Regions from separate parts of the Homo sapiens genome. Here region 1 is linked to region 2. Evidence: fine-mapped expression QTL. A gene starts in region 2. The other region holds a variant in brackets. All regions are shown on one strand. Distances are between the middles of the regions. Region 1 has its middle 13 kb from the start of FCER2. Region 2 holds the start of STXBP2 (syntaxin binding protein 2).

The links. PIP is the estimated chance that this variant, and not a neighbour inherited with it, causes the effect. A credible set is the group of variants that fine-mapping cannot tell apart.
Region 1: its variant is the best candidate, but not a certain one, in a credible set for the expression of STXBP2 in whole blood (TOPMed, PIP 0.50).

What each region holds. Positions count from the first base shown.
Region 1 is chr19:7,712,664-7,717,183 of GRCh38, reverse strand. No RefSeq gene overlaps it. Among named protein-coding and RNA genes, the nearest start is that of FCER2, 13 kb to the right of the region's middle. The variant G/C (reference allele first, on the strand shown) is at 2,217.
Region 2 is chr19:7,634,640-7,638,639 of GRCh38, reverse strand. STXBP2 (syntaxin binding protein 2) reads right to left here and starts at 1,530. Exons shown (of 19, transcript NM_006949.4): 1 at 1,454-1,530. The coding sequence starts at 1,490. It also overlaps a transcript of PCP2 not described here. RefSeq lists enhancers at 401-927, 928-1,456, 1,457-1,984 and a silencer at 1,423-1,712.

The DNA of each region.
Region 1 (4,520 bases), 78 kb before region 2:
GGCTGCTATAACAAAACACCATAAACTGAGTTGCTTCTAAACAACCACACATTTTTGGCTCACAATTCTGGAGGCTGGGAAGTCCAAAACCAACATGTTGGCAGACTCTGTCTTGTGAGGGCTCTTTTCCTGGTTCACAGATGGCCATGTTCTTGCCATGTCTTCACATGGTAGAAAGGGCAAGTAAGTCTCTGATGATTGATGAGGGCACTAATTCCATGCATGAGGGCCCCACCCTCATGACCTAGTCACCCCCTAAAGCCTCCACCTTCTAATACCGTCATCTTGGAGGTTAGGTTTCAACACATGAATTCTGAAAAGACACAAACTTTCAAACCATAGCAGCCATTTCTAGAAGTTATGTAAGGCAAGGAAATGAATTCTCCCCCAGAAGGATGCAACCCTGCCATCATCTTAATATAAGTCCAATGGGATCAGTGTCAGACTTCTGATCTTCAGAACAGTGAGATAATAAGTTTGCATTGTCTGAAGTCACTAAATTTGAGATAATTTGTTAACTGCAGCAGTAGCTGACTAATACAAAAGCTTAGCTGGAGCTCACCCATATCACAACAGTAACCACTTGTGACTATTTCATAGCATGCCCTAATAGGTCTGTAAGTACCTGTACACCTTGATGGAAGTAACTCAACTCAAGAAAAACCACTGGAAACACCTGCAATAAACCTTTAACACCCGTAAGATGTTACCACCTAAGATATAACTGTAACTCTCTCCTTGCCTAAAAATACACACAGGTAACTTACCTTATCTAGGGTGGCCATATGTCTCTCTTTGTCTAATTTTCACTTGACCCAGGTATAAATATTCTTTTCTTTTCTTTTTCTTTCTTTTTTTTTTTTTTTGAGATGAGGTCTCACTCTGTCACCTAGGCTGGAGTGCAGTGGTGCGACCTTGGCTCACTGCAACCTCTGCCTCCCGGGTTCAAGCAATTCTTCCACCTCAGTCTCCCGACTAGCTGGGATTACAGGGGCTCACTGCCACGCCCAGCTAATTTTTGCATTTTTAGTAGAGATGGGGTTTCACCATGTCAGCAAGGCTAGTCTCAACTCCTGACCTCAGGTGATCTACCTGCCTTGTTGTCCAAAGTGTTGGGATTACAGGTGTGAGCCACCATGCCCAGCCATGATGTAATTTATATACAATAAGATGCACCCATTTATTATAATCATTAGGATGGCTGCCATCAAAAAAATTACAGAACATGAAAGTACTGGTGAGAATGTGACAAAATTGTGCACTATTGGTGGGAATGTAAAATGGTACAGCCACTGTGGAAAAAGCTTCTGGCAGTTCCTCAAATAAATTATAAATAGAATTGCCATATGGCCCAGGAATTCCATTTCTGGGTGTGTGGCCAAAAGAACTGAAAGCAGGGTCTCAAAGAAATATTTGTACACTCATGTTCATAGCAGTATTATTTACAATAGTCAAAAGATTGAAGCAGGTCAGATGTGGTGGCTCTCGCCTGTAATCCCAGCACTTTGGGAGGCCGAGGCAGGCGGATCACTTGAGGTCAGGAGTTCGAGACTGGCCTGGACAACATGGGGAAATCCCGTCTCTACTAAAAATACAAAATTAGCCGGGCGTGGTGGTGCGTGCCTGTAATCCCAGCTACTCAGGAGGCTGAGGCAGGAGAATCACCTGAACCCAGGAGGTGGAGGTTGCAGTGAGCCAAGATCACGACACTGCACTCCAGCCTGGGTGATAGAGGAAGACTCCGTTAAAAAAAAAAAAGATTGAAGCAACCTAGGTGTCCATAAACAGATCAATGGATAAGTGGAATGTGCTCCATCCATACGATAGAATATAATTCAGCCCTAAAAAGGAAGGAAATTGTGGGCCAGACGTGGTGGCTCACGCCTGTAATCCCAGCATTTTGGGAGGCTGAGCTGGTGGATCATTTGAGGTCAGGAGTTTGAGACCAGCCTGGCCAACATGGTGAAACCCCGTCTCTACTAAAAATACAAAAATTAGCTGGGTGTGGTGGTGCACACCTGTAGTCCCAGCTACTTGGGAGGCTGAGGCAGAAGAATTGCTTGAACCCGGGAGGTGGAGGTTGCAGTGAGCAGAGACTGTGCCACTGTACTCCAGCCTGGGTGACAGAGCGAGACTCCATCTCAAAAAAAAAAAAAAAAAAAAAAGGAAGGAAATTCTGACACAGGCAGTTATGCTAAGTGAAATAAGCCAGCCAG[G/C]CACAAAAAGACAAATATGGTATGATTCCACATTATTCCACTCATAGGAGGTCCCCAGAGTCAACTCACTCATAGACACAAAAAGTCGAACGGGGGGTGCCAGGGGCTGGGGCACGCGGCGATGGGTAGTCGTCGTTTAATCGGTAAAGTTTCAGTTTTTGTTGGTTTTTTTTTTCAGTTTTATAAGATGAAACAATTCCAGAGATTGGTTGTGCAACAATGTGAATATACTTAACACTACTGAGCTGTATGCTTAAAATAGTTAAAATGGTCAATTTGTTGTTATGGTATTTTACTTCAATTTAAAAATTTTTTTAATTGTTTAATGTACTCATTTCAAGTTTACAATTCAGTGAGGTTTTTTTTTTTGGTTTTGTTTTTGTTTTTGAGACGGAGACTCCCTCTGTTGCCCAGGCTGGAGTGCAGTGGTGCAATCTCGGCTCACTGCAACCTCTGCCTCCCAGGTTCAAGCTATTCTCCTGCCTCAGCCTCCCAAGTAGCTGGGACTACAGGCACCCGCCACCAGGCCTGGCTAATTTTTGTATTTTTAGTACAGACAGGTTTCACTTTGTTAGCCAGGCTGGTCTCGAACTCCTGACCTCAAGATCCAAACGCCTCAGCCTCCCAAAGTGCTGGGATTACAGGCATGAGCCACCGCGCCTGGCCAATTCAGTGAGTTTTAACAAAGGTATACAGCTGGGCAACCATCAAGATATTGATGATATAGAACATTTCCATCAGCCCTAGAATTCCCTCCTGCCCTTCAATCTCAGCACCAGCCCTGACAGAGACCTAGGTCATCACCAATCTGCTATCACTATGAATTTGACTTGTCTTGTGAAGTTTCATATAAATTAGATCATACAGTGCATAGTATTTTGTCTCCAAATGCTTGCTCCCAGTGTGATGTGTCTTTGTATTTTGTGTTTTTCATGTTTGTGGGTATATACAGGTGATTACATTTATGGGGTACATGAGATGTTTTGACACAGGCATGCAACGTGTAATTATCACATCATGTAGAATGCAGTCTCCATCCCCTCAAGCATTTATCCTTTGCGTTACAAACAATCCAATTATATTCTTTTATGTTTTATTTTTATTTTTTGAGACAGAGTCTCACTCTGTCACCCAGGCTGGAGTGCAGTGGTGCAATCTTGGCTCACTGCAACCTCCGCCTCGCAGGTTCAAGCAATTCTCCTGCCTCAGCCCCCCAGGTAGCTGGGAATACAGGTGTGCACAGCCACGCTCGGTTAATACACTCTTTTAGTTGTTTTATTTTTTCTTGTTGTTGTTTTGTTTTTGGTGTGTGTGTGTGTGTGTGTGTCTGTGTTTGAAACAGGGTCTCGCTGTGTCGCCCAGGCTGGAGTGCAGTGGTGCAATTTCAGCTCACTGCAACCTCTGTCTCCCAGGTTCAAGCGATTCTCCCTCCCCAGCTTCCTGAGAAGCTGGGATTACAGGCGCCCACCACCACACTGGGCTAATTTTCGTGTTTTTGATAGAGATGGGGTTTCACCATATTGGCCAGGCTGGTCTCAAACTCCTTATCTCAAGTGACCCACCCACCTCGGCCTCCAAAAGTGTTGGAATTACAGGCGTGAGCCACGGCGCCTGGCCTAGTTATTTTTTAATGTACAATTAAATTATTATTGACTGTAGTCACTCTGCTGTACTATTAAATAGTAGATCTTAGTCATTCCTTCTAATTGTTATTATCACTTTTTTTTTTTTTTAAGATGGAATCTCGCTCTGTCACCCAGGCTGGAGTGCAGCGAGGTGATCTTGGCTCACTGCAACCTCTCCCTCTTGGATTCAGGCAGTTGTCCTGTCTCAGCCTCCCGAGTAGCTGGGATTACAGACGCATACCACCACACCCTGCTAATTTTTGTATTTTTAGTAGAGACAGGGTTTCTCCATGTTGGCCAGGCTGGTCTCAAACGCCTAACCACAGGTGATCCACCCACCTCAACCTCCCAAAGTGCTGGGATTACAGGTGTGAGCCACCGTGCCTAGCCAAATCAAGCTTATTCACAACATATGTATTGCCTTAAGCCAGGGCGAGTCACAAGGTCAGGAGTTCAAGACCAGCCTGGCCAACATGGTGAAACCCCTTCTCTACTAAAAATACAAAAAAATTAGCTGGGCGTAGTGGCTGGTGCCTGTAATCCCAGCTACTTGGGAGGCCTGAGGCAGGAGAATCACTTGAACCCAGGAGGGGGAAGTTGCAGTGAGCCAAGATCGCACCACTTCACGCCAGCCTCGGTGACAGAGTGAGACTCCGTCTCAAAAAAACAAAAACCTACT
Region 2 (4,000 bases):
CCATCTTAATTCCCATTTACTTTTTTTTTTTTTTTAAGAGAGGAGGATCTCACTCTGTCACCTAGGCTAAAGTGCAGTGGTGTGATCATAACTCACTGCGGCCTCCAACTCCTGGGCTCCAGCGATCCTCTTGCCTCAGCCTCCCGAGTAGCTGGGACTACAGGTGCATGTACCACCCACAGCTAATTTATTTTTATTTCTGTATAGATGGGGTCTCGCTATGTTGCCCAAGCTGGTCTCAAACTTTTGGCCTCAAGCAGTCCTCCTGCCTCGGCCTCCCAAAGTGCTGGGATTACAGGTGTGAGACACGGCACAGGAATCATTTATTTTTAGCCCCCAGTTCTGCAAATTGGCTTCTGGGGTCACCCCCAATTTACAGACAGGGAAACAGATTCTTAGGCAACATGTAACTCACCTACGCATCCTGAGTGTCTAAGTGGCAGAGTGCTGGGGCAAAAGGTGCCACTCGATAAACATGTTTTAGGTGAATGAAAAGAGGAGAACCGGGATCATCTACAGCTCTATCTGCCTCTAGCGCCAGGCTCTCGGCTTCCCCACCTGCTACCTCAAGTATTCCTGCTGTGAGGGTTTCAGCCAGTCCCCCCAACCTGGTCTAAAATGTAGGACCCCTGGTTCCCAGCTCTGAGGCATGCCTAGCTGAGGCTATCCCACTGACCTCCGGTCTCAGTTTCCTCATCTGTAAAATGGAATCACTTTTTTCTAATCTCCCCCAATTAAAGGGGTTTGAGCTACAGACCGCCCTGCCTAGAGGAGAGAGTGGAGAGAAGTAACGGGGTGGCCCCGCCCAGCCACGTCCACTGTGTCATGTCCACTGTTATCAAGACGGCCAGGGCGGAAGGAGCAGCTGAGGCCGGAACTCCCCGGGGTGGAGGAAGAGGCGCCCTCCACCCTTCCCCCAAGAACCGGGGCCGGTGAGGCCTGGACGCCTGCGTCCTCCAGCTGCAAGGCGCTCCTGGAAATGGGGCAAGGAGGAAGACATCCCCTACACCACCCCTGTGGGGCCTGGACACGTCCCCTGAGCGCTCACAGCACCTAGGGTCGCTGACCAGAGCCCTAGGAGGCCCCAAGAATCCAGCCCCTGAACTTTGCCCGGCTTAAGAGATCCTAGAGTGTGGGCATCCAGCTGTGCCCTCCTCCCCCGGCAGGCACCCTAGGAGGCCCAGGAGTCCGGGCCCCAGCCTCCGCCACACTCTACCCGTCCCCTTTGGGTCCCCGGAGTCCGGCCCCCCAATTTTGTTCTGTTCTGGCACCGGAGAGCAGGGGCGTCCAGCTGGGAACCCGTCCCCGCCCGCCCCCTCGAGGGTCAGGTGCTCGGACGCCCAGCCCGGCCCCCAACTCCCAGCCGCCATGAAACCCAGGATCCCAGAGCCCGTGCGTCCCCGACCCCCGTCCCACACCGGACGCCAGAGCCCGGCCCCGGAGAGGCACTCACTTTCCCCCACCACCGCCTTCAGCCCCGAGGGCGCCATCTTCCCCGAGGGGCGCCGCCGCCGCTTCCGGGTGTGTCCCAAGGTGGGGGCGTGGCCCCGCGCGTCACCCACGTGGACCCCGCCCCGCGGGCCCTGTCCCCGCCCCCTGCGCACCTGGCCCCTCCCCGCCGTCGGTTCTCGCCCAGGCCCAGGAAGTTGAGTCCCTGGCGGGGAGGACGGGCAGGTGCGTCCGCGCTGCCGAGCACGAAGTCGCTGGAGGTGCACACCTCGACGACACGCTCACAGATGGGAGTTCAGACACACACTTCCTGGCTTGCGTGCGAAGCAGGATCGCAGGGCAATAATCCCTCCATCTTCCCCGGGAGGTTCTGTGCCTGCAAGATACACGGCACCCACTCGATGCCACCGGGCCGCCACTGTCTGGGCCTGGGATCTTGACCCACTTGCCTTCTGTACTTCAGGGTTTAGAGGCAGCAGCAGCAGCAGCAGCCGTCTTGGATAACTTTTGATGGATTCAGGAGGCCTGGAGACCTCTTGTGTGCAGGCACCTGGACATAATTTTCATTCAGTCCTGCCCAATGTTCCGACCTGGACTGCGGTGCCGACGAGGAAACCGAGGCTTAGCGGGATCCCTAATCCAAGGCCACGACGAGTGAGCCTGCTGGGTTCAAGCCAGGAGCCTGTCCCCAGGGGGCATTTGTCACAGCCTTACCCTCTTCCGGGAGGCGCAACGCTTACCCTCGTGGACCAACAATCGAATTAACATGCTGATACACACATGGGGTGAGTGACGCCCTCAAATGCTTGCAAACACAGACACACACTCGGAATTTCAGAAGCTGCTTCTGCTGTGTGTCCTGTCGCTTGGAAGGCACAGCCCCAGCAGCACCCATACAAAATGAGGTCTCCGATTTAAGGTGCGAGGTATGTGTGCAAACAGACTCTTGCTGGTCTGAGCTGGTTCCTTCGCTCGGCCGTGTTGATGAAGGTACCAAGCCCCCTGCCACTTACATGGGACATAGGGAGTGAATCAGACCCGAAGGTCTGGGGGAGATAGGAAAGGATCCATGCTGCCCTAAAGGAAATAAACTAATGTGACAACAAGTGCCACAGAAGGTAGGGGTGGGAGGGGACTTTACTGAGGATGACCCCCGAGGGCCTCTCTGAAGAAGCAGCCTTTTGACATTATCCCTAAATGGATTCTAGAAGCAGCCACACAGCATGTCCAGGTAGAGAAGGGAGGAGCCCCGAGCTTAAGAAGGCTGGAGGGTGGGGGCAGCAGGGGCCAGACTTCTGTAGGACAAGGTCAGACTGACCCATCCCAGTGCCAGGATGCAGGACTTTCAGTGCTAAAAATAGGACAGTCACAGGCAAACCAGGACGGTTGGCAACCGTAGGTAGGAGTTTGAGCTATTTCTTCCTTTCCTTTCCTTTTCCCTTCCTTTCTTCCTTCTTCTCCCTCCTCCCCATTTTTGTTTGTTTTTGTTTTGTAAAGAGACGGGTCTCGCTCTGTTGCTCAGGCTGGAGGGCAGTGGCACGATCATAGCTCACTGCAGCCTCGACTTCCTGAGCTCAAGGGATTCTTCCACTTCGGCCACCCAAGTAGCTGGGACTACAGGTGCACGCCACCGTGCCCGGTTGATTTTGTTGTTGTTGTTAAGAGACAGGATCTCCCTATGTTGCCCAGGCTGGTATCAAACTCCTGGGCTCAAGGGATCCTCCTGCCTTGGCCTCCCAAAGTGTTAGGATTTTAGGTATGAGCCACCGCACCCTGCCCCTTCCTCCTTTTGTAACAGCTTTACTGAGATATAATTCACATACCATACAACTCGCTGACCTAAGGTGCGTAAGTCAATGGCTTTCAGTATTTTTGGAGTTGTGTGTCCATTACCACAATCCATTTTAGAACATTTCCACAACCCCTAGGTGTTTGGGTTTTGTCTTCTCAAGAGTTTTGAGCAGGGGAAGGCGGGGAACCCTCCAGATCCTGGGGGGATGGAAGCCAGGACCGCCTCCAGCTTCTCAGCCTGACCCCTTGGGGGGACAGAGAGCTGTTAGGGCCAGCCACCCCACCACTAACCCCCAAAAGATATGAAGTACTAATCCCCAATACCCCACAATAGGATCTTATTTGAAATGGGGTTAGTATAGATATTAGCAGTGAGCATGAGGTCACACTGGAGTAGAGTAGGCCCCTAATGCAATATCACTGGTGTCCTTGTAAGATAGTTATATGTCTGCCTGGTTCTGTGTAGGTGGTTGGGGGGGTGGGGAAATGGGTATATGAAGACTGGGACACAGAGGGAGAATGCCATGTGACCACGGAGGCAGGGAGTGAAGAGCTGCAGTGACAAGCCAAGGACATCAAGGACGGCAGGCCACTGCCAAAAGCCAGGGAGGGGCAAGGAGGGCTCCTGAGACCTGGTTTTCAGAGGGAGCACAGCTCTGCCAACACCTTCATTTCAGGCTGTGGCCTCTGGAACGTTGGCTCAATAAATTTGTTAAAAAAAAATTTTAAAGGCTCAGCATGGTGGCTCATGCCTGTAATC